Homo sapiens: one gene and its partners. The protein of the gene in region 1 purifies or fractionates together with the protein of each later gene. This does not show direct contact. Each region holds a gene or a part of one and is shown in the gene's direction. Other genes may lie near its edges. The genes, in order: TEX29, PTS, PLAA, FLVCR1, HIP1R, ZDHHC9 and STEAP3.

Evidence for each region.
Region 2: the proteins of TEX29 (region 1) and PTS purify together in Homo sapiens (affinity purification with mass spectrometry; 3 studies listed by BioGRID and IntAct, with this or other methods). This does not show direct contact.
Region 3: the proteins of TEX29 (region 1) and PLAA purify together in Homo sapiens (affinity purification with mass spectrometry, with the first as the bait; one large-scale study listed by BioGRID). This does not show direct contact.
Region 4: the proteins of TEX29 (region 1) and FLVCR1 purify together in Homo sapiens (affinity purification with mass spectrometry; 3 studies listed by BioGRID and IntAct, with this or other methods). This does not show direct contact.
Region 5: the proteins of TEX29 (region 1) and HIP1R purify together in Homo sapiens (affinity purification with mass spectrometry; 3 studies listed by BioGRID and IntAct, with this or other methods). This does not show direct contact.
Region 6: the proteins of TEX29 (region 1) and ZDHHC9 purify together in Homo sapiens (affinity purification with mass spectrometry, with the first as the bait; one large-scale study listed by BioGRID). This does not show direct contact.
Region 7: the proteins of TEX29 (region 1) and STEAP3 purify together in Homo sapiens (affinity purification with mass spectrometry; 3 studies listed by BioGRID and IntAct, with this or other methods). This does not show direct contact.

The regions. Positions count from the first base shown.
Region 1 is NC_000013.11:111,341,142-111,344,641, forward strand, and holds the end of TEX29 (testis-expressed protein 29), read left to right. Parts: intron 1-1,614; coding exon 1,615-1,790; intron 1,791-2,941; coding exon 2,942-2,982; 3' UTR 2,983-3,107; downstream 3,108-3,500.
Region 2 is NC_000011.10:112,231,951-112,234,473, forward strand, and holds the end of PTS (6-pyruvoyl tetrahydrobiopterin synthase), read left to right. Parts: intron 1-1,212; coding exon 1,213-1,283; intron 1,284-1,481; coding exon 1,482-1,605; 3' UTR 1,606-2,023; downstream 2,024-2,523. UniProt on the Homo sapiens protein: Involved in the biosynthesis of tetrahydrobiopterin, an essential cofactor of aromatic amino acid hydroxylases. Catalyzes the transformation of 7,8-dihydroneopterin triphosphate into 6-pyruvoyl tetrahydropterin.
Region 3 is NC_000009.12:26,937,243-26,940,742, reverse strand, and holds part of PLAA (phospholipase A-2-activating protein), read left to right. Parts: intron 1-3,500. UniProt on the Homo sapiens protein: Plays a role in protein ubiquitination, sorting and degradation through its association with VCP. Involved in ubiquitin-mediated membrane proteins trafficking to late endosomes in an ESCRT-dependent manner, and hence plays a role in synaptic vesicle recycling.
Region 4 is NC_000001.11:212,885,775-212,889,274, forward strand, and holds part of FLVCR1 (choline/ethanolamine transporter FLVCR1), read left to right. Parts: intron 1-2,116; coding exon 2,117-2,227; intron 2,228-2,714; coding exon 2,715-2,820; intron 2,821-3,371; coding exon 3,372-3,483; intron 3,484-3,500.
Region 5 is NC_000012.12:122,848,957-122,852,456, forward strand, and holds part of HIP1R (huntingtin-interacting protein 1-related protein), read left to right. Parts: intron 1-918; coding exon 919-999; intron 1,000-1,878; coding exon 1,879-1,955; intron 1,956-2,279; coding exon 2,280-2,341; intron 2,342-3,500. UniProt on the Homo sapiens protein: Component of clathrin-coated pits and vesicles, that may link the endocytic machinery to the actin cytoskeleton. Binds 3-phosphoinositides (via ENTH domain).
Region 6 is NC_000023.11:129,802,788-129,805,886, reverse strand, and holds the end of ZDHHC9 (palmitoyltransferase ZDHHC9), read left to right. Parts: 3' UTR 1-2,599; downstream 2,600-3,099. UniProt on the Homo sapiens protein: Palmitoyltransferase that catalyzes the addition of palmitate onto various protein substrates, such as ADRB2, GSDMD, HRAS, NRAS and CGAS. The ZDHHC9-GOLGA7 complex is a palmitoyltransferase specific for HRAS and NRAS.
Region 7 is NC_000002.12:119,247,834-119,251,333, forward strand, and holds part of STEAP3 (metalloreductase STEAP3), read left to right. Parts: coding exon 1-373; intron 374-480; exon of another isoform or gene 481-1,238; intron 1,239-3,500.

The DNA.
Region 1 (3,500 bases):
AGCACCTGTGCTTGTTGATGAAAATCATAACCCGTGTTTAGTGAGCACCTGTGCTTGTTGATGAACATCATAACCCGTGTTTAGTGAGCACCTGTGCTTGTTGATGAACATCATAACCCGTGTTTAGTGAGCACCTGTGCTTGTTGATGAACATCATAACCCGTGTTTAGTGAGCACCTGTGCTTGTTGATGAACATCATAACCCATGTTTAGTGAGCACCTGTGCTTGTTGATGAAAATCATAACCCGTGTTTAGTGAGCACCTGTGCTTGTTGATGAAAATCATAACCCGTGTTTAGTGAGCACCTGTGCTTGTTGATGAAAATCATAACCCGTGTTTAGTGAGCACCTGTGCTTGTTGATGAAAATCATAACCCGTGTTTAGTGAGCACCTGTGCTTGTTGATGAAAATCATAACCCGTGTTTAGTGAGCACCTGTGCTTGTTGATGAAAATCATAACCCGTGTTTAGTGAGCACCTGTGCTTGTTGATGAAAATCATAACCCGTGTTTAGTGAGCACCTGTGCTTGTTGATGAAAATCATAACCCGTGTTTAGTGAGCACCTGTGCTTGTTGATGAAAATCATAACCCGTGTTTAGTGAGCACCTGTGCTTGTTGATGAACATCATAACCCGTGTTTAGTGAGCACCTAAGACTCTTAAGAGCTCTGCTCAGCCTTTTCAGCCCTTGAAGCCACTGACGATGTAAGTGAACTTACTGTCCCCGGACTGGGATGATTGACGCAGCATCGAGGGGGTCCCGAGGCTGATGGATGGGGCAGTGAGGCTCTAACTCAGGCTCCCAGTTGTCTCAGAGTCCCTGAACCCAAGGCTGCCTGCATCTCTTGGCCTGTGGCCTGCGTCCTCATTGCAGGGTGTCAGGGTTTGGAGGTGTCTCAGAGATGAGTCCACTCCCTCTCATTTTAATGGTGAGGAAATGCAGACCCGGGGGGCCAAGGAAGCAGGTGGCTATTCCCAGGGCAGGGCTGGAATCCAGCATCTCACTCCCCGGCCACCACCTTCACCATGAGCCCACTCTGTGTGCATACAAGCCCCTGAGATTATTTGAGTCTCTTTGTCCAGGAATGAGTAAAGCCATTTTCCTACCATGAGTGGTGCTGTATGCTGTCTTATGTGTGTTAATCATGAAGATGAGCCGGCAGTAGCCTGCAGTGCAACACACACCTTCCCCCTGCCCGGAGCTGTCTTTGGGAGTCTAGCTGCCTCATACAGCCATCTGTTTGGAGCCTGCACAAGAAACTAAAATGAGGCTGGATGTGGTGGCTCATACTTGTAATCTCCCAGCACTTTGGGAGGCTGAGGTGGGAGGATTACTTGAGCCCGGGAGTTGGAGGCTGCAGTGAGCCGTGTTTGTGCCATTGCACTCCAGCCTGGATGACAGATCAAAACTGTCTCAAAAAAAAAAAAAAAAAAAAGAGAGAGAGAAAGAAACGAAAATGAGAACTATTACATCAAAGCATTTACCTTAAAAAATAAGTATGCATGATCAGGAACCTGTGTTTTCAGAGGGATGTCCTGGTGGGTGGGAGGGAGGAACTGGAGAGTTTTCCATCTGTAACTTCCCTGACTGTGATAAAACCCTCTTCCCATCAGAGTCATTCAGGAGAGCAGGAAAGAAAAGGCCATCCCTGTGGATGTCGCGCTGCCACAGAAGTCCAGCGAAAAGGCGGAGTTGGCCTCATCCAGCAGCAAGTTAGGGCTGAAGCCTGCGAGTCCTGGGCCTCCAAGTGCTGGGCCCTCGATGAAGAGTGACGAGGATAAGGATGATGGTGAGAAGCTTCTGGAATGATCCTCAGCCTAAGGTCAAGGGCGTGGCTCTGTTCCCTCGGGAGACCTTCCCTGGGAAGGGGCTCAACATCTACACAGGCCCTTCAACCTCAGTGATCAGTGTTGCAGTTTGTTCAAAATTGTAATGTACCCAACATTGGAGGTTCAGGTTTGCAGGGTGGATGTGGCTGTCAGTGTGAGTTTCCTTCTGTGAGTCTTGTCCTCCCCCTTCCCATCCCCTTTTGCCTCCCTGTCATTTCACCCTCTGGCGGGGCCCTCATTGTTAGTGTGGGAAGCTCCTGGGGAGGGGGCAAGAGTCCTGCAGAAACTGCACATTTGATCAGGTGACTTCCTGTGGGGAGGCTGCAGGGCTGCCATGGGTACTCTCTGTGGCACCCTGGCCACGTGGTGGTCTTGGTTGTGCAGGGAGGCTGCCAGGCTGCTGTGGGTATTCTCTGTGGTGCCCTGGCCGCCTGGTGGTCGTGGATGTGCGGGGAGGCTGCAGGGCTGCTGTGGGTACTCTTTGTGGTGCCCTGGCCACGTGGTGGTCGTGGTTGGAGAGGTGGACGATCACTCTATGCCTGCTTCGGTTTCCAGGAAGGAAAGTTTCTCATATGTTGGTTTACCTGCTTTGGGGGCCCTTGGAGGTTGCCGGTTGCTTTTCCTAGATCAGCACCTTGCCAGGTTAGAGAAAGAAACATCTCAAATGGTAATCCTTATCTTCAGAGATGTTTGTACAGGATACAAACGGCCTGGCCTTACCCATTGTTACCAAATAGACTTGGCTTTACAGGGACCATCAGGAAAATCAGGAGGCAGGGTAAGAGGGCAACCCACACTTGATTTCAGATCTGGAATGCCTGGCCCCTAACTGAGGCTGCGTCTGTGCAAATGAGGCTTTCCTGCAGGACAGATGTTTGCCTGGTTAAGGGAGCCTCCTGTGTAGAGAGATGATGTGGGAGGAAGAGTGTTTTACTGTCCCCTAGAATGCAATGAGAAACATAGGAGGATACGGCCATCCCCAAAACTGGCTTTTGAATCAATCATTGCCAATCAGACACCATGTAGATGGGTTCAAAGATCCTGATGAAATCTTTTCGGGACTGCTGAATATTCCATTTGAAAAAACAATTCTTCTTTTCTAAAAATCTAGTAACAGGGACAATAACAGAAGCCGAAGAAACTGAGGACTGACTGAGACGCATGAAGAAGTGGAGATTGTCAGAATTATCCAAATGAAATGGTACAGCAGGTGCACTGTTAACAGTGTGATGGAATGACCACCCAAAGAGAAAAAAATAAAGGTATTTTGAAAATTGCTTCTCGTCCGATGTTGCTTATTCATTGCTATATTTTTATCTTAGGAGAGAGAAAGCCTGTGGGGTAGGAGAGTGGGAACCTGAACTTTCAGTTTTTAATGGCACTGCTTGTCACTAATATTAACACTATGGGGGCTCACAGCATGGGCTCAAGGTGGTGTCCTCGAGGTCTTCTTTTCAGAAGGCAGGCTGCACTTTCACCAAGAGTGGGCTGCCACACAGACACAGGCGGTTCAAGACTCTGGCATTTGGCTTTGCTAGGACTCAGCCGTGCTGCGAGGGAGGAGCAGCGTCTGGATCTGGATCTGAGAGGCCCCAAAGCATAGGCCGTAGCTGCCTGAGAGCCCCTCATGCAAGGCAGTGCGCTCAGTCCCAGAGTGGCCGACAGATGCT
Region 2 (2,523 bases), on another chromosome or scaffold:
AAAGAAAAAGAGAAAAGAAAAGAAAAGAAAGAAAAGAGACAAGACAGCAACATAAAAGGCCTCAACATATGACTAAATACTGGAGGAGGGCTTCTCTATGCTGTTTTCTGCTTTTGTATGCCTGAAGGACACCACACACTTTCATCAGTAAAAGTGGCTTATCATGGCATGTAGAGTAAAGTTAGAGCTCTACCGTGGGGGGAGGATTGCTTGAGTCCAGGAGTTCAAGGCTGCAGTGAGCTATGATTATGCCACTTGCACTCCAGCCTGGATGACAGAGACCCTGTCTCTAAAAACAAAACAAAAGAAAACAAAAAGCCCTGCATAAGAGGCTTTAATGGAGAAATTGGGACTGGAACTGGGATTGAAGATGAAGCAAGGATGCCCGTTTTCTTGTTATTCATGTGGAACATCCCTTCATTGGATATATTTCAATAACTGTTTGATCTAGGACTTACTCTTTTTGTATGATTCTAGTTTTTCTCAAGAAATGATTGCTGTTACTGTTATTAATGTACCCTTCTTCAAACTACGTCCTATGGAAAATTACATTTTTTTTTCACAGATGCTTAGATTTTTTGCAATAGCTAAAAGCAAAAACCTAGAAAGAATGAGGCAATTTAATCCTTGCTGATGATGAGGAAAAACATTATGTTAATATACACGAGCATTAGGGAGTAATAGTCTTTACATATATATATTTTTCCTTCTATGAGCCCAAGATCATTCTTAAATTATTCCTCATAGCAAAAATTTAGAACTACTTACATAATTTCAGTCTAGGTCTGCTTTATAAAATGTAGTAGTCACTGGATCTTTGTCCTTATGATATTGTGGCATTGTTCCGTAGGTGTGACAGTGTTATGGAAAAATATTTGTGCTAACTGTTTGGACAGGATTCACAAAGTGTTAAACTGAATTCTGAATTACAATGGCTTGTGTTGCGAGAAAGCTCCAGGAATTCTCTGCTTTTTGGTTTCTCACCTCTTTTTATTCAGTAACAAGGATTCCTAATCATTACCGACAGCTGGGCCTGACTTTATTTTACAACTTGAAATTTTGTAAAGTTGCCTTGTAAGACTCAAATCTAGTACTTACAAATATTTAGTTAGTGGCTAAGTGATAAGGTGAGGTTTAGAGGCATAAGTGGAACAATTTGGAATTTGAGTCGTAAATGGAGTCAATGATATTTTCCCTTGGTTTTGTCTCTAGGAGGCGATTATGCAGCCCCTTGATCATAAGAATCTGGATATGGATGTGCCATACTTTGCAGATGTGGTGAGGTGGGTGGCACTGTATCTTGCCTTATGTGGATTGTAAAACAAGAATTGATTTGAATACTTTGATTGTTGTGTGATTTCTGAAGTTTTAATTTAATGAAATCTTTCGAAACTAGAATTTCTATTTTCTGTAAATATTAAACATGAAATTTTATTGTTTGCATTTTGAATTTTTTTTGTTTTTGTTTTTTTTTCTTATAGCACGACTGAAAATGTAGCTGTTTATATCTGGGACAACCTCCAGAAAGTTCTTCCTGTAGGAGTTCTTTATAAAGTAAAAGTATACGAAACTGACAATAATATTGTGGTTTATAAAGGAGAATAGCTATTGGGGTTAGCATTGCACAAAGCCCAGTTTCTTTCTGTGTTTGAAAAAGATTTTGATCCCCTTGGAATATTAAGAGGTCAACACGTGATTGTTGTACGTACACATTGTGCTCTGGAGTGCCTATTTATTGAAATCATTGTAAGACCTGTTATAAATTTAAGTCTATTTAAAACTAAACTTGTAATATACATCCTGAAAATCATTTAGAGAGTCTTTTATTTATAAATTAAAAATCACTTCATTTTCACAAAATGTTTTGGTGTGGGATTATTTGAAAGCAAAAGAAATCTAATTTTGTTTTCTCCATTACCTCATTTTAGTATTAATTTTTACTTGGTATAATATACATGGTTAAAATGCTTATGTGACTTCGAGTAGGTGAATCTTAAAGAAATAAAATTCAAGTGACCACAAAGTCTGGAGACAATATATATATGTATATTTAATAGATTGAACTCTCTTGATTACTACTTGTTGGGTGTGCTGAAGGCATAAGTGGATTCAGTGAAAATTAGACACACAAATCATGTGAGGCATCTGTTGTGGATACACGTACAAATATTGATGGAAATGCTGCTTTAGAGCACATCATTCATTACAATTTTGCACAGCGTATTGAACTATGAATTGCTAGTGAGGAACAACACATTAAACATATCATGGAATATCAGTAAATTATTCAGTATACTCCTCTGAATTTCTGAACCTGATGGGCACTTGAATAATTTCAACTCAGAAGACTGCAGAATAATCATATTTTAAACTCTAAAAAATAGTCAGCATAAAAAGGATCAACTACCATATAAAATATTTCCTGTATATAGTTTTTCCTAATTGATCCCATTTTGTTCTGATTATTAAACTTACTATATGCTTGGCATTCTTCTCTGGGATCTTTTCCTCGTGACTAAATCC
Region 3 (3,500 bases), on another chromosome or scaffold:
TTAGTTCCTGCCTCTTTGTCCTCACCTCTGGAGGTATATAGTGCTGTTAATTCTTTTCCTCCAGTTTTTTTATTGTGATACAATACACAAAACATAAAATTTGCCATCTTAACCATTTTAAACTGTACAGTTCAATGGTATTAAGTATATTCATAATGTGTAACCATCACCACCATCCATCTTTTAACTCTTTTTATCTCTTTACACTGAAACTGTACCTGTTTAAGCAATAACTCATTGTCTCCACCCCCAGACCCTGGCAACCACGATTCTACTTTATGTCTGTATGATTTTGACAGCTCTAAGTTCCACATATAAGTGGGATCATACAGTATTTGTGTTTTTATAACTGGCTTATTTCGTTTAGCACAATGTCCTCAAGGTTCTTCCATGTTGTAGCATATGTCAGAATTTCCCTCCTTTTTAAGGCTGAATAAAATTTCATGTTTATACCACATTTTGTTTATTCATCCATTGATGGACACTTAGGTTGATGCCACATTTGAGCTATTGTGAATAATGCTACTATGAATATGGTTATACACATATCTCTTTAAGATCCTGCTTTCATTTCCATTGGGAATATATCCAGAAATGGAATTGCTGAGTCATATGGTAATTTTATTTTTAATTTTTCTAGGAATTTCCATACTTTTTTCTGTAGCAGGTGTCTTTGCTTTCACGTAGTATATTCTGTATGTCTGTTAGTTCTAGTTGATTTATTTTGTTAAGTCCTCTTTTTCCTTACATGTTTTCTGTCTGATTATTCTATCCATTATTGAGATTGAGATATTGAAGTCTTCAACTATTATTGTAGAACTATCTATATATCACTTCAATTATGTCAGTTTTTGTTTTATATATTATGTGCATAAATGTTTATAATTGTTATATCTTCTTCCTGTACCGAACTTTTTATTAATATATAATATCCTTCTTTGTCTCTTGTTTTCTTTTTTTGATTTAAGGTCAATTTTGTCTAATGTTAATATAGCTGCTCCTGCTTTCTTTTGTTTGCTGTTTTCATGGAATATCCTGTTTCATCCTATCACTTTCAGTATATTTGTGTCTTTGGATCTAAAGTGAGTCTCATAAACAGCACCGAGCTGGATTATGTTTTTTAAAATGGTTTCTGCCAATCTTTGTCTTTTGATTGGAGAATTTAATTCATTTACATTGAAAGTAATCACCGATGCCATTTTGCTGTCTGTTTTCTATATGCCTTAAAGTTTGTTTGGTTTTTTTTTTTTTTTTTTTTGGTCTCTCATCTCCTGCATTACTGTCTTCTTTTGTGTTTAGTTGATTTATTTATTTATATGTTTGTTTATTTATTTATTTTATTTTTATCTTTTTTTGAGACGGAGTTTCAGTCTGTGGCCCAGGCTGGAGTGCAGTGGCGCAATCTCGGCTCACTGCAAGCTCCACCTCTTGGGTTCACGCCATTCTCCTGCCTCAGCCTCCCGAGTAGCTGGGACTACAGGCCCCTGCCACCACACCTGGCTAATTTTTTGTATTTTTAGTAGAGATGGGGTTTCACCGTGTTAGCCAGGATAGTCCCGATCTCCTGACCTTGTGATCCGCCGGCCTCAGCCTCCCAAAGTGCTGGGATTACAGGCGTGAGCCACGGCGCCCGGCCTAGTTTATTTATGTTTAAATTCCTTCCCCATTTCCTTAGTGTATATTCTATTTTTGTGTGTGTTTACCATGAGGATTATATTTAATATCCTAAAGTTGTAATCCTCTAATTTGAATGTATACATTTAACTTCAATAACAAACAAAAATTCTTCTTTATAGCTCCATCTTCACCCCTTTTGGTTGTTGGTGTCACAGAATTACATCTGTATGTACTCTGTGTCCTAAAAACATAAAGTAATAATTACTTTAAATGCCTTAATTTCTGAAATTATGTAGGAAAAATTTGGAGTTACAAACCAAAGTTACAATATCATTAGCTTTTAGGCTAATTTTTTTAATGTAATGTTTCTTAAATGACATAGAAATCAAAAGGTAGAGTTATAAACCACTATCGTATTTACCATTATTGAGATCTTTATTTCTTCATATTGCTTCAAGTCTGTCTAGTGTGTTTTCATTTCACTGTGCGAGAAGGCTCCTTTAAGCATTTCTTACAGGGAGGTCTCATGGCAGCAAACTCCCTCACCATTTTTTTTTTTTTTTTTTTTTTTAAGAAATGGTGTCTTACTCTTTTGGCCCAGGCGGGCATACAGTGGTACAGTCATAGCTCACTTAAGTCTCAAACTCCCAGGCTCAAGGGATCCTCTCGCCTTAGCCTCCCAAGTAACTGGGACTACAGGTGTGTACTATCACACCTAGCTAATGCTCCAAAAAAATTTTTCAAGATGGGGTTTCGCTATGTTGACCAGGCTGGAATGCAGTGGCTGTTCTTGAGTGTGGTCGCAGCACTCTGCAGCCTCCAACTTCTGGGCTCAAGCGGTTCTCCTATCTCAGTCTCCTGAGGTGCTGGGACTACAGGTGTGTGCTACTGCACTCAGTTTGACCTCCAAAGTTTTTGATGAGAAATCTACTAATTATATTATTGAGGATCCCTTGTATGTGATAAGTTACTTCTTTCTTACTGCTTTCAAGATTCTTTGTATCTCCCTTTCTTAAGTTTGAATATAATGTGACTTGGTGTGGGTCTCTTTGAATTTATCTTCTTGGAGTTTGTTGAGTTTCTTTGGATGTTTATATTCATGTCTTTCATCAAATTTGGGATGTTTCCAGCCATTATTTCTTCAGATATTCTCTCTGCTCCCTTTCCCCTCTCTCTAGGACTGCCACAATCTGTATGCTGGCCTACCTCATGTTGTTCCACAAGTCCCTTAGGCTCTGTTCATTTTTTTTTTTTTCAGTCTTTTTTTGTGTTCTTCAAACCTGATAATTTCTACTGTCCTATGTTCAAGTTTGCTAATTATTTCTTCTTGCTTGAATCTGTCTTCAAGTTGTCTAGTGAATAATTTCATTTCAGTTATCATACCTTTCATCTTCATAATTTCTTTTTGGTTTCTTTATAGGTTTTCTGCCTCTTTACTGATACTTCAGTTTTCTTCATGCATAATTTTCTTGACTTTCTCCATCTTCCTTTAGTTCTTTGAGCATGTTTAAAACAGTTGTTTTAAAGTCTCTGTCTAGTAGATCTGCTGCCAGGTCTTTTTCAGGGACAGTGTCTATTGACTTAATTTTTCCTTTGAATGGGCCATACTTTTCTGTTTATTTGTATGCGTGTGATTTTTTTGTTGTGGTTGAAAGTGAACATTTAATCTAATAATATAACTCTAGAAATCATATTCTTCCCCTTTTCCAGGGTTTGCTGTTTTTTGTTATGTTTTTGTGTATTATCTTTTTGTTGTTGTTGTTGTTGAAGGGTGTCTTTGTTTCAAATATCGGGCTAAGATGTAAACTTAGTCTTCTCAGTCTTTTCTGAGCCTGTGCTTTTCCCTGGGCATGCACTTTCACTTTCTAATTTTTTCCATATAT
Region 4 (3,500 bases), on another chromosome or scaffold:
TCTCCTGACCTTGTGATCCACCCGCCTCGACCTCCCAAAGTGCTGGGATTACAGGCGTGAGCCACCGCGCCCAGCAACAAGTGTTTCAATACTCTATGTATTGTATTATTTTATTGGTCACATTTATTTCAATTCTGAGAACTTGGATACCTTATGAGCCCCTTCTTTCTAACAGTACTCATACCTACCACTTCCGAAGGAATTATTTCTATTCTAAAAAGAGCCATTTCTGAGAAATATTTGACTTTTGATAGACTTTATCTTGTTCTTTTTTTTTTTTTTTTTTAGGTGGGGTCTCACTCTGTCACCCAGGCTGGAGTGCAGTGGCACCATCTTGGCTCACTGCAACTTCTGCTTTCCAGGCTCAAGTGATTCTCCCACCTCAGCCTCCTGAGTAGCTGTGACCACAGGTGTGCGCCACCACACCCGGCTAATTTTTTGACTTTTTGATAGAGACAGTGTTTCACCATGTTGCCCAGGCTGATTTTGAACTCCTGAGGTCAGGCAATCTGCCCACCTCAGCCTCCCAAAGTGCTGGGATTACAGGCATGAGCCACTGCACCTGGCCTATGTTGTTCTTTTTTTATGTTGTGGGCTTAAATACAAAAACAAAAAAGTAGTTCTTTCCAATCAAAAAATTATTGTTGAGCATAAGGCTTTATTTTGGTAAGAACTTTTTGGCTAAAGTACGCCCAGACTACAGTACCACTTAACTGTAATATAATGCATAATGTGAAAATGCTGGTTTGACACAATGTCTTATGCCTGTAATCCCAGCATTTTGGGAGGCCAAGGCGGGTAGATTGCTTGAGGCCAGGAGTTCGAGACCAGCTTGGGCAACATGGTGAAACGCCATCTCTACTGAAAATACAAAAAATAGTCAAGTGTGGTGGTGGGCACCTGTAATCCCAGCTACTCAGGAGGCTAAGGAAGGAGAATTGCTTGAACCCAGGAGGCAGAGGTTGCAGCGAGCTGAGATAGCGTGCCACTGGTCTCCAGCCTGGGTGACAGAGCAAGACGCTGTCTAAAAAAATAAAAAAAAAAGAATATACTCTGTTAATTGTACATTATATGGAACCACCAAAAGGCTAATACCAAAGAAAATGAATGATACCAACTGGGAGACTAAGAAAGGGGTTTCAGAGGCAGCATATTTTGCTCTGGGAGTGAAAAGAATCACCACATTTTGTAACATGCCAAAACTTACCCCTGTACTTGGAAATGAATGAATGAAACTATTAAGGAATAAATGAATGAAATATGGAACTGTGTCCCGTGTACCTTTCAAGGCTCAAGATATATTTGATATTATTAGTCTAAACGCTACCAAAAGTATCTCTAATCTTGAAATTCTCCATATTCTTCCATAATTTAAGACAGCACTTGCCTTAGCTTCATTATTTTAAAATGATAGCTTAGAGTGAAACCTACTTGATATATAGATGAAGGGAGCATATGTAAAGGATTATATTTCTTAAGTCTTTCATCCGTTATACATTTAGAAAACTTGATAGGCATAGATGTGTGTTCTTTGCCACTGTGGCTTCCTTCTCAGGGTAACTGCCATTCATTCACCAAACTCCTGTTGTGTGCATCTTTCTTAGATGAAAATTATGGCTGGCATTATGTGATCCCTGTTCTTAAGATGTTTGTGGTCTAAATGGAGCAAATAAGGCATTCACATGTGAAAAGTTAAATAATATAACAAACTAAAATAGATGTCATAAGTTTTATAGTGCCAGTATGATAAGGGAATTTGGAAGAAAGAGAGACTCTTATAAACTGGTGTCGTTACAGAAGGCATTTGGAAGAGGTAGAATTTGATCTGAATCTTGAAATGTGAATAGGGAACTATCCCATTTGGTGGCATAAAAATGATTTTATTCCTATAAAAGGATCCTATCTGAGCATTCGATATGGTGTGGTTTTCTGGTGCTGCTGAATCTTAAATTAAAAATGCTTTAAAATTTGTGCTTTGGTGGATACATATTTCCATGGACAAGAAGGGGTGAACTTTGAAAAACAAAGATTCATTACTGAACAGGTAAGAGTGATGATTTTTGTATTCCTAGGAGAATCAGACAAAATACTAACAGCTTTGTTGTTTTTGTTTTAGACAGACTACTCTGATAGTTTATATTTTGTCTTTTATTGGAATGGTTATCTTTACTTTCACATTGGACCTTAGATATATTATCATCGTGTTTGTTACTGGAGGGGTGCTTGGGTAAGTATCAGATGTGTTTAGGAGGAATGATAGCATGCTGTTATAATTCTGAAGTATTATTACTCTGGTCTTTAATTTTTTCAGTTCATCCAAAGTTTCTTCAATATTTTAAACTTTAAAGGATTCATTCTATGCATATAAACATGTAATTCTTAAGAACTATTAAAAATTATTTAAAATTGGTTTTTGGTATACCATAGGTAAAAAATGGATGAGCCTTACTTAATCTGTGTAACTTTATTTGGTTACAATCAACTTATAAAACTAGAAGTAAATTTTTCTCAGAAAAAAATGTGTATTTGTTGCTTCCAGTTCTGTAACCTTGAGCTGATTGGTCAATGATAATAGTTCCTTACTTTGACATAGCAACTTCAAAATATTCACTTATTTGGTCATTAGAATAAGCCCGAGAGGCAGAATGATTGCATCAGTATGTGATTGTGACTTTCTGGTAGTTCTTTCTGTAATTCTGGATTTATTTTCCTAGCTTCTTCATGACTGGTTACCTCCCTTTGGGTTTTGAATTTGCTGTTGAAATCACTTACCCTGAATCTGAAGGTACTTCATCTGGTCTTCTTAATGCTTCTGCACAGGTAAACCTCTGATTTCTCTAAACCTGAGATGATTATTATACCAGATATTCTAGTGAGTAATGAGTTTGACCATGGTTTTATTTGTTGTTGTTGTTGTTTTGTTTTTTGGAGACAGAGTCTTGCTCAGCCATCCAAGCTGGAGTGCAGTAGTGCAGTCATGGCTAACTATAGCCTCAAACTCCTAGGCTCAAGCAATCCTCCCCCCTCTGCCTCCAGAGTTTTTGGGACTGCAGGTGCACACCAGCATGCCCAGCTAAATTTTTTTTGTTATTTTTTGTAGAGATGGTGTTTTGCCATGTTGTCCAGGCTGGTCTCGGACTCCTGGGCTCAAGCAATTCGCCTACCTCAACTCCCAAAGTGCTAGGATTACAGTGGGTGTGAGCCACTGCACCCAGCCTGACCGTGGTTTTTGTTTTAACAATTCAACTTTTCAATGAATGTTTCTAGAAACCAAATCATATAACCAAAATAAGAAAAGTTCTGGTGAAAACTTTATACTTGCTTTAAATAATTTAACTTAATAACGAATGATTTTTCTTATTGTATTTTAGATATTTGGAATTTTGTTCACATTGGCTCAAGGAAAGCTCACATCAGACTATGGTCCTAAGGCAGGGAACATTTTTCTCTGTGTCTGGATGTTTATAGGCATCATATTAACAGGTAAATTAGGGCGTTTG
Region 5 (3,500 bases), on another chromosome or scaffold:
GGTTTTCCCAGGGGCGACAGTGGGAGGGGCAGCACGGGGAGATGCTGCCTGCCTTTGAGGGCCTGGCCCAGGGCGCTCCACACGCATAACCAGTGGGCCCTCCAGCGTCGAAGTCACCCGGGCCCTTTAGTCCTCACGAGTTGGGAAATGTGGCAAGACCACAGCCCGGGCACCTCGGTGGTTAGAGAGCCTGTGGCAGGGCGCAGGTTCCTGGGCTCCCCCAGACCTGCTGCTGAAGAATCAGGACTGGAGGTCTGCATTTTGAGCACACACACAGTAAGGCCTGAGAGCCCTGGGGGGCCTGCAATCTGGATGCACTGCAAGACCTCAGGAGTTAGAGATGTCCCTGGTGGGCAGAGGGCCTTGGCCTGGTTCTCTCTGGAGCACTGTGGGGTGCTCGTCTGCCTGGGCAGGGACATAGGAGCAGGGCAGGCCCTGGACCGGGTACCCACAGGGAGGCCTGACCAGGGCGTTATCCAACCCAGAACCACTGCCCGGACTCACTTCCCTTGAAGCGAGGAAAACACTGCCCATGGTGCCACCTGCAGATGCAGGCCCAGCTGGCCCGGCCGCAGGGGCCGTGGGGCTGGAGGAGGGAGCAGGGAGGATGTGTCCAGGCGCCCGTCGGGACGTGCCTCCCTGCCAGCACCAGCACTTTAATAAAGCGTCCCTGCTCAGAACTGGCCTGCCGCCCTGGACAAAGAGCTCTCTTCTCACAAGAGTTTCTTTGGCAGGAATGACAAGGAGGAAGATTAAGGGAAAAAGCTAGAGACAGAGAGGGTGGTTGGTGGAGGCCAGGAGAAGACGTTTGTTGAATGAAGAAGTGCCCGGTGGTGGGTCACTCTCGTGCCCAGGTCCTTGAGGACTCTTGGACGTGTTCACGAGCCGTGGCCCCTCACCCTGTCTGTCTTCACACAGGGACATTTGCATGACCGCTACGGACAGCTGGTGAATGTCTACACCAAGCTGCTGCTGACCAAGATCTCCTTCCACCTCAAGGTGGTTTCCTCGGGGGAGTCATGGGGCTGAGGGACCCGTGGGCTTTTCCCACTGTGACGTTATGGCACATGTTGGGACATCGAGGGTGGGATCTGTCCTCTCCATGAGTCTTTCCATTCACCTTCTTGTCCCAACTATGACTAAAGGGGAGACGGGGAAGCCAGGGCATCACGAAGCTCCTAGAACACTTCAGGCATTTCCGTGGACGTGGGCACGGGCTTCCCCAGGCGTTTCTGTGGACATGAGCGCTGGGCTTCCTCAGTCTCTGCTGTGCTGGCCGGGTGCTCCCCTCCTCCCAACCCCTCCACTGCCCTCTGCCACCTATGTGGGCCACAGCCTGGGTCTGCCAAGAGCAGGGTCCAGCGTGGGGCCCCCTGGTTCAGTGGCCGCTGGGTTGGGGGGGCCCTGGTTCAGTGGCCGCTGGGTGGGGGGGGCCCTGGTTCGGTGGCCGCTGGGTTGGGGGGCCCCCTGGTTCGGTGGCTGCTGGGTGGGGGGGCCCTGGTTCGGTGGCCGCTGGGTGGGGGGGGCCCTGGTTCGGTGGCCGCTGGGTGGGGGGGGCCCTGGTTCGGTGGCCGCTGGGTGGGGGGGCCCCCTGGTTCGGTGGCTGCTGGGTGGGGGGGCCCTGGTTCGGTGGCCGCTGGGTGGGGGGGGCCCTGGTTCGGTGGCCACTGGGTGGGGGGGGCCCTGGTTCGGTGGCCGCTGGGTGGGGGGGCCCCCTGGTTCGGTGGCCGCTGGGTTGGGGGGCCCTGGTTCGGTGGCCGCTGGGTGTGGGGGGCCCTGGTTCAGTGGCCGCTGGGTGGGGGGGAGCCCTGGTTCGGTGGCCGCCAGGTGTGGGGGGGCCCTGGTTCAGTGGCCGCTGGGTGGGGGTTCTCTCCACAGCATCCCCAGTTTCCCGCGGGCCTGGAGGTGACAGATGAGGTACTGGAGAAGGCAGCTGGGACCGATGTCAACAACATGTGAGTCACTCTGCATGGCTACATAGCCAGTTCCCCTCGGCTTCCCCATTCCTTCCTACCGCGTCTCACGCCCAGGCGTCCGCATGGGGCAGTGGGGTTGAATGAGTCCGTGGCTTTGTTGGTTGATGCTCACGCTCCCAGGGACAGAGGGTGAAGTTAAAAGGGTGGGGTGTACTTGAAGGACTGTCGTCCTGGCAGAGGCACGCTGTCTCACCAGAGCCATGGTGTCGGCGGTGCCCCCGTCCCCACTGGAGGGGGCGTCTCAGGACGAGTGGGTGGGTCCACCCACCCTTTTTCATTTCTTCCCCCACTTCTCTTGCGTAGCTTCCAGCTCACTGTGGAGATGTTTGATTACATGGATTGTGAGCTGAAGCTTTCTGAATCAGGTGAGCCGTAAAGAGGGGATGCGGGGGTCTGAGTGTATTGCTAAGTCCCCAGAGATGGGACGAGAAGAAAAAAGAAGACATGAGTGATCAGACCAACTGATCACTATGAAATGACCCTGGCCAGCCGCAGTGGCTCACATCTGTAATCCCAGCATTTTGGGAGGCCGAGGCAGGCAGATTGCTTGAGGTCAGGGGTTCAAGACCAGCCTGGCCAACATGGTGAAACCCTGTCTCTACTAAAAAAATATAAAAATTAGCCAGGCGTGGTGGCGCACGCCTGTATTCCCAGCTACTTGGGAGGCTGAGGCAGGAGAATCACTTGAACCTGGGCGGCGGAGATCATGCCGCTACACTCCAGCCTGGGCAACAGAGTGAGTCTCCGTCTTAAAAAAAAAAAAAAGAAAAAGAAATGCCCCTGCCCCTCCTGGGGTCCCTGCACCTCCAGGGATAGGTAATGGGGCCTCCTGGCCCCTCCAAAGCATGGCAGGCCCCAGCGGGTACATCCAGGATACAGGTTCAGCCATCTCTTCCATCCAGTGAGTGTCACTCCATCAGCCCCAAGACAGGGAGGGTGAGGAGGTGTGCACAGGAGCCACCTTGCCAGGTTCCTGCCCCAGCCTTGGGCCATCTGCAGAGCCCAGCTGGAAGAAAGGTTTGGGTCGTCCTGCCATTTTCTGCTCTAGAAAGCCTCTGAGTCACGTCAGACTTCCTAGCGAGGGAACCCGGCCGCTGTTGGACAGGAAATCTCAGAGGGCTCAGCTTCCAGGCTGGAGAACTGATTGTTCTGGGTGGCAGCTTCAAAACAACTCATGGGTGACTCAGTGCTCTCCATAAGAGGGCAAGAAGCAAATGCCTCCTTAAGGGAAAATTGGGAGTTAGAGGCAGTTTGGGCAGCCTCCCTGAGTCCCCAGGTCTGGCCAGTGCAGCTGGGCGAGCCTGATGGGTATTCAGTTCCAGTGGGTGGGAGGTGGGCTCAGAGTTGGACCCTTGTGCCTGGGAAGAGCCTGCTCAGGATCTGACATGGAGAGCAGAGGGCAGGTGTCCAAAGGTGTGGCCCCAACTGTGCAGCAGGACAGGGCTACCAGGCTCTGTGTCCTGGCAGAGATGTGCTGAGCCTGAGCCTCTCAGCACAGAGCCCACCAGGTAGGAGCCAGTTACC
Region 6 (3,099 bases), on another chromosome or scaffold:
GGGTCAGAAGATTCTCCTGGCCACCAAGTGCCAGCATTGCCCACAAATCCTTTTAGGAATGGGACAGGTACCTTCCACTTGTTGTATTTATTAGTGTAGCTTCTCCTTTGTCTCCCATCCACTCTGACACCTAAGCCCCACTCTTTTCCCATTAGATATATGTAAGTAGTTGTAGTAGAGATAATAATTGACATTTCTCGTAGACTACCCAGAAACTTTTTTAATACCTGTGCCATTCTCAATAAGAATTTATGAGATGCCAGCGGCATAGCCCTTCACACTCTCTGTCTCATCTCTCCTCCTTTCTCATTAGCCCCTTTTAATTTGTTTTTCCTTTTGACTCCTGCTCCCATTAGGAGCAGGAATGGCAGTAATAAAAGTCTGCACTTTGGTCATTTCTTTTCCTCAGAGGAAGCCTGAGTGCTCACTTAAACACTATCCCCTCAGACTCCCTGTGTGAGGCCTGCAGAGGCCCTGAATGCACAAATGGGAAACCAAGGCACAGAGAGGCTCTCCTCTCCTCTCCTCTCCCCCGATGTACCCTCAAAAAAAAAAAAATGCTAACCAGTTCTTCCATTAAGCCTCGGCTGAGTGAGGGAAAGCCCAGCACTGCTGCCCTCTCGGGTAACTCACCCTAAGGCCTCGGCCCACCTCTGGCTATGGTAACCACACTGGGGGCTTCCTCCAAGCCCCGCTCTTCCAGCACTTCCACCGGCAGAGTCCCAGAGCCACTTCACCCTGGGGGTGGGCTGTGGCCCCCAGTCAGCTCTGCTCAGGACCTGCTCTATTTCAGGGAAGAAGATTTATGTATTATATGTGGCTATATTTCCTAGAGCACCTGTGTTTTCCTCTTTCTAAGCCAGGGTCCTGTCTGGATGACTTATGCGGTGGGGGAGTGTAAACCAGAACTTTTCATCTATTTGAAGGCGATTAAACTGTGTCTAATGCAAACTTCCTGCCTCCTCCTTCCCCCTTCCATTTCAAGAATATGTTTGTGTGTAGGGTGGGGGTGGGGGTTGGAAGGGGTTGCTTGTTACTCCCCAAACTTCCATTAACCAGGGCACCCTTGGGTTGGAGAGGTAGTTCCAAACTCTCCATTGATCTATACTACATTCTGGGCTGAAGGTTTTCTTATTCTGGACTATGAAGAAAGGACTTTCAAGGAGATATAGTGTGAACAGGATCAGGAAGGTAGAGGGATTATATTTACTTAAGAGAACAAGCTCTATATTAGGATATTGTTTTGAAGCAGATGGATGCCGTTAATTGCTAATAAGTCTTAGTTATTAACGCAGGCTCATCAGGGCCCCCCCTTGGAAATATTTGATCAGTGGTCTTTTACAAGTGATGGTATATATTTCTTTCTAGGTGGTGTATAATCAAGACTCCCTATCAATTCCCATCTCATACTTCCCAGTTAATTGGAATTAATGAAATTTGGCTGCTCCCAGACCTTTTTCCATGTCTTCCTTTTTCCTTTTAACAGGATTTAAGTTGAGCATTCTTGAGAGAGAGAGAGAGAGAGAGATTGGAAGAGAGATGGGGAGAGACTGACTCAGATCCCTCTCCTGTCTGCTTCTTTTTCTGGTTCTCTCAGTTTTTTTTCTTGAAGTTATAAAGCCAAACCTGGAGAATTTGTAAGTTGTTAGGTTTCCCCAGGTAACTTGGCACTCATATGAACCCCATTTTAATAAGTACTCAGCCCATCTCCTCTCCTGGGCTCAGATGGCTCTCTCTCCTCCCTCACCTTACCTCAAGTGTTCTCCTGAGGACCCTTAGGTCAGACAGAGAAGCTTTCTCTTTCTGATGGGAAGGGTCAAAGTGGAAATCTCTTATCTCTAGTGTGAAATGATTTTCTGCTTTTTCATACTCCCTGCCCTCTTTCTTTTCCTTAATAAATCTTCCATGTTTAAGATGTTGGCCTGAAGATCTGTCCCATTCATACCATGCACCAGCTGGGACTGTCCCTATCTGATCAGAGGGGAGATTAAAGAATCAATGTTCCCAGGGGAAAAGGGCCTTAAATTGTTTGGTCTTTTCAATGGCTGACACTGTCTCCAACTCTCCCCTTCCTCCTTCTTCCTCAAGCTTCCTATGCACCCTACTTTCCCAGGCCAGGATGGTTGGCACTGATCCCAAACCTCTGGGGGCAGGTGGAAATTGGCTGTGGTGAGCCATTTCTTCATGTCCATTCAGCTCTGAGGCCTTCCTGGCCCTAGCTGAGATCATCATCTCCTCCTTTGCTTTTACCCCAGGAGTGAGGTTGGGTTAGAGGTGGATTCTGATTCCGTAGCAGCTAAATTCCATTCTCCCTGTCCTGACCATCCTGCCTTTACCCATAAAGCACCCGTTCCTACTGACCAAATCTCTTTACTTTGTTGGAGAAAAAAAGTATTTTGTTTTTAAATCTATTTTCTAATTTAAATGCAATTTAATATGTAAATCTCTGCACTTTTGTGTGAGCCTACAAATGTGTATGTGTTGGGGGTTTTTCACTCTCTGGTATTTCTTAATAAAGAAATCTTTCTTTTGGGGGGAAGCCAATTAATGAAGGAGCCTTGAATGGTTTTAGAAATACAGGGCTGTCTGTTTCTTTGTGCTTCTGCCTCATTTCTTTACTTGTGCCTAGTGTGAGTGATTGGACTCCCTCCCCCACCTTTTGACCCCCTTCCTCTGAGAGGGCCCTCAACTTAGTGGGGGCAGAGAGAAGGACCTGTCCTGTATCTGGTACCCCTCTGGGACCACTTGGATTGGCTCTAGTAGTAACCTAGCAACCCAGCCCCCTCCCCTCTCCCCATGGCCTGGCCCTGTTAGTCCTTTTCTTCCAGCTCAGTTCATTTTATACTCCTGAGTTGGGGCCAGGCCAGGGGAAATCACCAAGGGAGCACAGTAAATGGTTTTAAAAAAATGATAATTCGTTCTCATGCCTTGGTGCTACTAAAGAAGAGTCATGTTCCCAGTAATTCAAAAAGCATTTGTGTCAGTTTGGAGAATACATTCTAGGAATCTCTTGCTGTTCTTGGTGATAGGCTTTAGAAACAGTGTCAAAGGCTACAACTCTGAATATCATTTGTTTTAAAGGATGCAAGCCCAGCTCAC
Region 7 (3,500 bases), on another chromosome or scaffold:
CCTGCTGGCCCTGGGGCTCTTCGTCTGCTTCTATGCCTACAACTTCGTCCGGGACGTTCTGCAGCCCTATGTGCAGGAAAGCCAGAACAAGTTCTTCAAGCTGCCCGTGTCCGTGGTCAACACCACACTGCCGTGCGTGGCCTACGTGCTGCTGTCACTCGTGTACTTGCCCGGCGTGCTGGCGGCTGCCCTGCAGCTGCGGCGCGGCACCAAGTACCAGCGCTTCCCCGACTGGCTGGACCACTGGCTACAGCACCGCAAGCAGATCGGGCTGCTCAGCTTCTTCTGCGCCGCCCTGCACGCCCTCTACAGCTTCTGCTTGCCGCTGCGCCGCGCCCACCGCTACGACCTGGTCAACCTGGCAGTCAAGCAGGTACCCACCCCATGCCCTTCCTCCCTCTGGCAACTCAGCACATGCTTGTCCAGCACCTCCCCCCCCCACCAACCAGGTGCAGCCGATACCCACGGGTGCAGCCTTACCAGGTGCCAACTGCAGATTCTGTTCCAATGGGGCAGCACCCACATCCTCCTGCCCAAGATTTTGAGTATCAGTGAACAAAGCAGATGAAAATTCCTGCCCCCATGGGTACAGCCCAGTTGGGGCAGACTTAAACAAAATACAGCAGTGAGTCATAGTGGGCGTTGAGAGGATCAGGAGTGCTAAGGCGCAAAGGAAAGCAAGCGTGGGCGGTGGGGGTGCAGGTTTGAAGATGGTCCAGGAGGACTTGCAGAGTGAGTGCTATGTGAGCAGAGCTGGAAGGAGGGGAGAGGGGCCGGTGGCCTGCTGGGGTGATGTTGCAGGCCACGGGGCATAGTCCTTGGGCAGAAGTGTGCCTGGTACGTTGGAGGAGCAGCCAGGAGGCCCATGTGGCTAAAGCTGAACAAGGAGGGGGTGGCAGGCGAGGCCTGAGAGGAAGAGCTTCAGCCTTAGGCTCCGAGTGAAATAGGGAGCTGGTGAAGGTTTGAATTTAGGTGTTGATCGGCCTGACATTTTAAGTGGTTCTCTCTGGTTTTTGGCTGAGAACAGACTGTAGGAGGTCAAAGGCAGCTAGCTGCTGGGGCCAGCGAGGAAGCCGTGCATATGCCCAGATTTGAGGCAGTGGAGGCTGGAGGCAGTGGGAGCAGTGGAGGAGCAAGGAGATCCTGAAGGCACATGTGAAGCTGGAGTGCATGGAATTGCCGCTGGAATGGCCCCAGGGTTTTGTGGGTGATCAGGGATGACTCTGGGGTTTGGGTCTGAGCACCTGAAAGAGAGAGTTGCCATCAGCTGAGATGGGGAAGGCTGCAGGAGTGAGCATTCCAGGTTTAGGTTTGTTGTTGTTGTTGTTGTTCTTTGTTTGTTTTACTGGGGGTGGCACTAATCATTCATTTAGAAAATTCATATGGGGCTTGGTTGCCAGCAGGGTTCCTGGGAAGTGGAGGACCTTCAGGCCACACCAGGTGGGGACCCAGGCATCAGCTGGCACCTGTGCCCACAGAAACAGGCCCCTGATGCTCCCTCCTGGTCCACAAGCTCATGGGGCTTGATTCTTAGTCCCAAGCTCACATCTTCAGCAACACTGTCTTTATTTTCTCCAAATTAATTCCACCTCCAGTGCCCAGCCCCGGGGCTGGTTGATGCATAGGTCCTGCCCACTCCAGGACGCTAGTCACCCAACAGGGTTCAGCCCAGGTGCTGGTGAGACACTTCTCATCCACCCCTCATTCCAGCCTGGCAGCCCCTGCAGCTCCTGCTCCTGCTCAGAATGCAGGGACCTTGGTGAGGCTGGGCCCTCCCCTAAACACCTAGCACAGGGCCATCCCCTCCGAGCATGGGGGATTGGCAGGACTGGGAAGCAGGGCTGGGCACCTCCTGAGAACCACAGACCTCAGCCCCTACTCACTGTCAGGGTTGCTGCTTCTCTGCCAGCAGCTACTCGACTGCCCTCGTCCTTTGCCACCCACAGATACCGGCATCATTGCATCTGTGGGCTCAGAATTTCCTAAGACAAAGGAAGAACCCCAGACTTCAGGCAGAAAAGCAAGATGCTTGATGGAAATGAGAGGAAGGGAAGAAATCAGTCATGAACCCTTAACAAGAGCTCGCTGTGTTCCAGGAACCATTCTAAGAGCTTCGTACACCACTGTGAATTCATTTAACCCCATCTCATCCCTGTAGGCCAGGTGCTATTATATCCTTATTTCATAGATGAGAAATCTGAGGCACAGAGGGGTCAAGTAACTTGGCCAAAGTCACACAGTCAGTAAGTAGCACAGCTGGGATTCAGATCCAGCTATTTTCCAGATCCATGCTTATACCCACGCTGCTTTCTACAGGCAAACCAAATTCACAATTGAGTAAATGATTTCAGAACTAGGTCATTCATTCACTCATTCACTGAGCACCTACTCTGCCAGGCCCTGGGGCCACAGAAAGGAGTAAGAAAGACACAGACCATCTGGCTCCTCGCCTCAGCTGGTGTGGGGCGGTGTGGAGGCCTGAAGGCTAGAGGCTGGACTCCTGCTCTCCAGCATCGCTGACTGGAACAAAGATCTTGACCTTGAGCAAGTCACAGCCCCTCTTTTGTCCTCGAGGCCCTGATGTGTAGATCAAGCTCTCTCCTAGTGCTAATGTTTTCAATGCTCTTTGACGATATTTTCTTACTGACTTCTACAAAGCACCAGCCCCTTGGCAGGAGGCTCTGCGGGGCTCCCTGGGGACTAGTACAATGTTGCTGCCCAGGACGGGGCAGATCTGCATGGAGGAGCCCACTCCCTCTCCCCTGAGCTGGCAGGTATTTCCAGCAGCAGTGGGAAAGACGGGGACGGTGCCCACTACCCCCCAGGGTAAAAGACACACCACTGCTCCCTCCCTCCCCTGCCACCCTTCAACTGCCTTTGTCTAAATTCTCTGCCCTGCCAAGGCTCTCCCTGATATTCTGTTAACCCAATTCTGCCCTGATGCAAATACCAGGGCACAGAGGGGCGCATGCAAGGTAATTTTCCCCGTGTCCCAAAAATCTTTAGGGCTGCAGGCCCTGGTGAGGTTGCCAGGCAACCATCCCTCCCGCAGGACGAGATCAGTCAGAGACACCGAAGGCCTCTCATGCAAAGGGGCTTAAACTTGTTCTGCAGAGTTCTTAAGGGCAAAACCAGGGCTGATGTGGTTATGTCGGGGTGGGTGGTCGGAGGGAGGCAGGGGCTTGACACACAGCAGCCCAGATACGGGGAGGTGCCCAAGCCTGGGCACATCCAAGCAGATTCTGGATGGTCCATGGTAAGCCATGCCCGCGGTTCTGGGCCTGGGCACCTGAGGCTGTTCTGCCTTCAGCCCCAAACAGCAGGGACTCCTGGGTGGCTCAGGCTTGATGTGTGGCTTCTGCTGCCAGCCCATGGGCACCTCACCACAGGGTCCCCACATGGCCACTCACCACCCCAACTGCCCACTAGGCCCTTGGGTCAAGGGAGCACATTAGTCTAGGCACAAGAAACTCCTCCAAGATTTCCTTACAGCCCTGAGT